Linked DNA regions of Homo sapiens: region 1 is linked to region 2. Evidence: fine-mapped expression QTL. Tissue or cell type: esophagus muscle. Region 2 holds a variant in brackets; the other region holds the start of a gene. All regions are shown on one strand. Distances are between the middles of the regions.

Region 1 (2,926 bases), 160 kb before region 2:
TGTATCACTTCAAACATCCCTGTATAACTCAAAACAGTTATGAAGAAGTTCTTTGCAGCTTTTGGGAGAAGTTTACAAATTTCTGAGAACTAGATACATATTGAAATATAGTTTTATGTTAATCAAAACTGTTTCAAAGGAAAGCATAGACATTTAAAAACGACTGAAAATAAAAGTACTTTAAATGTCAAAGTAAATAATTTTATATGTGAATAATCTAGATTTCATGGTTTGAGCAGGAATAATTTATAACTCATTAGGCAAGTAATATACACAGTGCACTTCTCTCCCAACCTATTGCATTACAGCCATATTTTTTCTCACATTTGTAGAAAGGGTTACACAGTGCTATTATTTGAATAGCTTTGACCTTGTTAAAGCCTGGCACCATTGTTTTTTACATAGCAAGCAGTATATTTTTAAATAGAGTCACTTTCTTACAACACATGAAATAAAGAATGACATAAAAACTTTAAGATTGTGAATAATAAAATATGTAAGATATATCCTCACCTTGATTTTACCTTTAAGCAGCCTTTTATTTGTCTGTTAGGAACTTCTTTCCATGGTTTTACAGGCTCCGGCTCTTGTTCTTTCTTTTGACAAATGAATGTATAATTTGTGCCATTATTATTTGACCAAAATGTACCAACAGAAGTTTCATAACGTATACAAAACTCAACTTTACTGCCATCTTTTTGATAAGGAGGAACCAATACAATCTTAAAGGAGAACTGGTCAGTTTCACCATCACATGAATTAGGAACATATTCTGCTAAAATGTCATAATGTGTCTGCCAGTCATCTAAAGACATTCTTACATATACTAACTTCTCAAAAGAAACATTCAAAACTCGAATAATACCCTTGATACTTGTAGACCCAAGAAGAGACTCAGTTGACTCCAGTATTGCTTTCTGTATTTGGAGTTGTTGCATAAGATCTTCTTTTGAAGAAGGCAAGTCAAACAGTGGGGCTAAAACATATTCTTCTGTGTGGAAAATGTCCGTCCCTAAGTCAAAAGTGGTTGAAGCACTCGGTAATTCCCAGCAATCAAATTCTTTAACAGACACAAGATTGAATCCAAAGGAATCAGCAAATGAAACTCTTCTAGTACCTGAAGATGGGGTATCCAGGTATATGTCTTCAGAAGAATCAGAACCTCGTCTACTTGGTTGAGGGGAGAAACCAGGTTGGAAAGTAACTTCTTCATCTTCACAAAGAGAGTCAGATAAATTAGGAACTTCTAAAAAATTATCTTTGCTAATCTGACTAGGTACTTCAGAAGGCTCCATTGGGCTCTCTGATATCAAATAAGAGAGAACTGTACGACTAGTAGAGGCTGACATTTGAGATACTGAGGCTTAAAATAGGTATAATGTTACAGTTGACATTGCAAAAAGAACTCAGCTCTATAAATAGGTCCAATGGCGTGTCAACTATGCTAGCCTGCAACCCTGCTAGCCTCCCCCTAAAGGCCTTGCATATGATAGCATCCATGCTACTCCCACCAGTATGTTTCAGATTTAACTGGCAGTTTTTAAAGCTGTATTTGTTTATGAGCTAAGTTCCAAACAGATATTTTTAAATCATGTTCTGCTGTATTGGAAATCCTGGAACTTTAGGATAAAAATATTATTTTAATTAGTTGATGTTAAAAATGAAAATGTGGATTTTTTTTAAATAAAATAAAAGTAGTATCACAATACTGAATATGTAGTTTGGACTAAATTAATCCATGGAGCAGGTAAGTGCAAACAGGGAAAGATAAGAACATTTATAGAACTGAAGAGATCCAGAGCCTACTAATAATGACAGCTATCATTTTCAGGGATTTATAAATGTATAGCTTTATTACAAAAGGGTTAAATAGAGGTGCTGAAAGTTCTGAGGAAGGAAACATGATTCAGATGGGGAAGGTATCATTTTAAATAAAGCATGAAGGGTAGGTGGAATTTAGACATGCAAGGTTGGAGCAAGGCAGATTGTCCAGGTAGAAGAAATAACCCAAGCAAAAGCCTAGAACAAAGAAGTAATCAAATTCATTATTTTAAACATTAGTACATTTATTTTAATTAAGCCATGGGAAAATACAGATAAGACATGTTATTGATTTACAAATATAAGTGGGCAAAGGTAAGCCTGATCCAGGACTAATACATCTACGTAGAATAAAATGTTCTTTTGCAAATGGCCATTTTATGCCCACAAAGCAGAAGTTGATACCATCACACCTTGAAATTCAATATGAGTTTTAAAGTATGAACAGCCTGCTTAAACTGTCACGTTTTTTTTATGTCATAAAACCCAAGTTGGGGGATGGTCATTTTGGTAAAAACCTATAAAAATTTAACTGCACACAATTTGACCGAGAAATGCCCCAGCTAGAAATTTGCTCTGTCAGTATGGGAAAGTATACAAAGATAAATAGAGATCTATGTTCATAACAGAATTGTGCGTTTAACAGTCTCTACAAACCTGTTAAATGTCCCTCTCGAAAGAGCATTGGATAAATAACCCATACAATAGAATGTTTTAGAAGGATAAAGTAGCACTTTATGTGCTAATATGGAAAGATAACCAAGATAAATGGCTAAGTGATAAAAAAGAAAATGTGTACAGATATGTACATAGAAAACTCCTGAAAGGATACAAAAGACAATGTTAGCAGTATTTACTTCTAACCACAGAATTTAAAGATGGCAGAGGAATGGGGGCTCTATTCATTTTACTTTATGGTCTGCTGTACTGTTTGAAATATTATACATGAGCATGGTTTTCTTTCAAAATATCTATTAATTAAACTGAAAAAATATACGAAGTGTGAAAGGTGATTAGTTTTTCTTTTTATAAAGAGCCCAATAGCATAATTTCTTTCAAATGAAAACCTCATTAATATGGTATAACTTATTAGGTAATTTGAATT
Region 2 (2,926 bases):
GAGTTTTCTTCAATTGGTTAAAATATCATACATTTCTTTCACTAGTTCAGACATCTTTGTCTTTGATCCTGATTCACAGAATTTAGTGAGGAGGTGGAAAAGAGAATTGTTACAGAAGATGAATCAACAACATGATGGACAAAGGATCATAGAAGTAATAAAAAGAATTTTTTTAACTTCAAAAAAAAAGTCAGAAAATGTAAGACTCTTTGGCTACGGAAATGAAATCGCGCTTTAGCAGAAATTTATCTAATGCACATCATATATTCTTATGACAGGAACTATATTTATGATCATAAAAGCACTAATAATATTCTGTATAATAGTCTTGAAGTAAACTCAACAATGTACTTGCCATTCATAGTTACCCTATGAATATTATCAAAATAACTAAATAATGTGCTCACATTGTATATTCCTGTTATGGAAATTATTTTATATGCCTATTTAACTTTACTAGTTTGTTTAAATCACAAGACAATCTTGCTATTATTAAAATTGATTACATAATCAATATGATCAGGATCCATAAATGGCTTTCTATGGCTTTCCACGACTTAAACTTTTCAAAAAATTATCTAGGCATAAAATTATTTTTTGTTTTTATAATATATTATGAAGACAGAAGCATATTTATTAACAGATTAGGCAACCCATTGTCTTAGTATGTTTATTGTAATTTGAGTTTAAAAATTTATTGATTTGTTAATTTTTGCTAAACTAATTTAGAACTTGCCTTGACATTCTCCATTGAACTACTGTAACTGTGCTATAACCTAATTAGAAAAATCTCAGGAGACAATGATTGTTTCTTATGTTTAAATATGAACTAGGAAAGTAGTCTTTCTCAGTTTATAGATTGTTTTTACTCATTTACCTAAGACAAGACTGACAGTTATCCTGTCAAGGTAATCAAAGCCTAAAATGTTTTTTTCTATATTATTTTTTTGATAGACATATATAGGAAGTTGACAAGTAAAAATGGATTATATAGCAAGCCCAAAACTTGGAATGCATTTTTTCAGAAACAATGTTGTAAATGGTATTCAAATACCCTGCTAGTTAATGAAATGTACTTATCATATGTAGAAACGCTATTTGCTTATATTACAGAATGTGCAATACCACTCTTTTCAGTAAATAAAATAAAAAGTAAAGACTGAAATGTAATTTTATCTTTAATGTTTGTACTACGCTTAAGATAAATCCAGTTTTACTAGAGGATATTGATTGGAGGTAATTCTAAAAGAAACCTGAAATTCTACAACTTAAATATAACTTTTCTTATCATGGTTGCTTTCGCTATCTATTGCTGTGTAACAACTAACCTCAAATTTATCAGCTTTAAATCAACAAATATTTATTAGTTCATAGTTTCAAGGGTCAGGTATCCAGGAATGGCTTACCTGAGTCGTTCTTGCCCAGATTCTCTCTTGAGGTTATTAAGCTGTTAGCCAGGGCTCCAGACATCTCAAGAAGATTCAGCTGGGAAAGAAGGGTCTGCTTCCAAGTTCAGTCACATGGTTGTTGGGAGATCTCAATTCTTCTCTGGCTATTGGCCAGATAGTATAATACTATACTTCCTTACCATAAAAGTCTCTCTAGAGGGCTGCTTAAAACACAGCAGCTTGGCAGATAAAGTGATAGAGAGAGAGATCCAGAGACCTAAATGAAAGCCACCATCTTTCATAACTTAAACTCAGAAGTGCCATACTGTCACCTAGGCCTTATATTATTAGCCACAATAACAGAGCCTGGAACTATTGTGCCTGGAATTGGTGGGTTCTTGGTCTCACTGACGTCAAGAATGAAGCC[G/A]CGGACCCTCGCGGTGAGTGTTACAGTTCTTAAAGGCTGCGTGTCCGGAGTTTGTTCCTTCTGATGTTCAGATGTGTTCGGAGTTTCTTCCTTCTGGTGGGTTCGTGGTCTCCCTGGCTCAGGAGTGAAGCTGCAGACCTTCGCAGTGAGCGTTACAGCTCTTTAGGCGGCGCGTCTGGAGTTGTTCGTTCTTCTCGGTGGGCTCATGGTCTTGCTGGCTTCAGGAGTGAAGCTGCAGACCTTCAGGGTGAGTGTTACAGCTCATAAAGGCAGTGTGGACCCAAAGAGTGAGCAGTAGCAAGATTTATTGTAAAGAGCGAGAGAACAAAGCTTCCACACCGTGGAAGGGGACCCCAGCAAGTTGCCACTGCTGGTTGGGGCAGCCTGCTTTTATTCTCTTATCTGGCCCCACCCACATCCTGCGGATTGGTAGAGCCGAGTGGTCTGTTTTGACAGGGCACTGATCGGTGTGTTTACAATCCCTGAGCTAGACACAAAGGTTCTCCACGTCCCCACCAGATTAGCTAGATACAGAGTGTGGACATAAAGGTTCTCCAAGGCCCCACCAGAGTAGCTAGATACAGAGTGTCGATTGGTGCATTCACAAACCCTGAGCTAGACACAGGGTACTGATTGGTGTGTTTACAAACCTTGAGCTAGATACAGAGTGCCGATTGGTGTATTTACAATCCCTGAGCTAGATATAAAGGTTCTCCAAGGTCCCACCAGACTCAGGAGCCCAGCTGGCTTCTCCCAGTGGATACGGCACCGGGGCTGTAGGTGGAGCTGCCTGCCAGTCCCGCGCCGTGTGCCCGCACTCCTCAGCCCTTGGGTGGTCGATAGGACTGGGCGCCGTGGAGCAGGAAGCGGCGCTCGTCGGGGAGGCTCTGGCCGCACAGGAGCCCACGGAGGGGGTGGGAGGCTCAGGCATGGCGGTCCCGAGCCCTGCCCGCCGGGAAGGCAGCTAAGGCCCGGCGAGAAATCAAGCGCAGCGCCGGTGGGCTGGCACTGCTGGGGGACCCAGTACACCCTCCGCAGCCGCTGACCTGAGTGCTAAGCCCCTCATTGCCCCGGGCCGGCAGGGCCGGCTGGCTGCTCCGAGTGCGGGGCC

What was found. PIP is the estimated chance that this variant, and not a neighbour inherited with it, causes the effect.
Region 1: PPP1R3A starts here. The variant in region 2 is the best candidate, but not a certain one, in a credible set for the expression of PPP1R3A in esophagus muscle (GTEx, PIP 0.82).

Annotation. Positions count from the first base shown.
Region 1 is chr7:113,917,702-113,920,627 of GRCh38, forward strand. It overlaps PPP1R3A (protein phosphatase 1 regulatory subunit 3A), which reads right to left and starts at 1,308. Exons shown (of 4, transcript NM_002711.4): 1 at 514-1,308. The coding sequence starts at 1,295.
Region 2 is chr7:114,074,220-114,077,145 of GRCh38, forward strand. No RefSeq gene overlaps it. Among named protein-coding and RNA genes, the nearest start is that of PPP1R3A, 160 kb to the left of the region's middle. The variant G/A (reference allele first, on the strand shown) is at 1,816.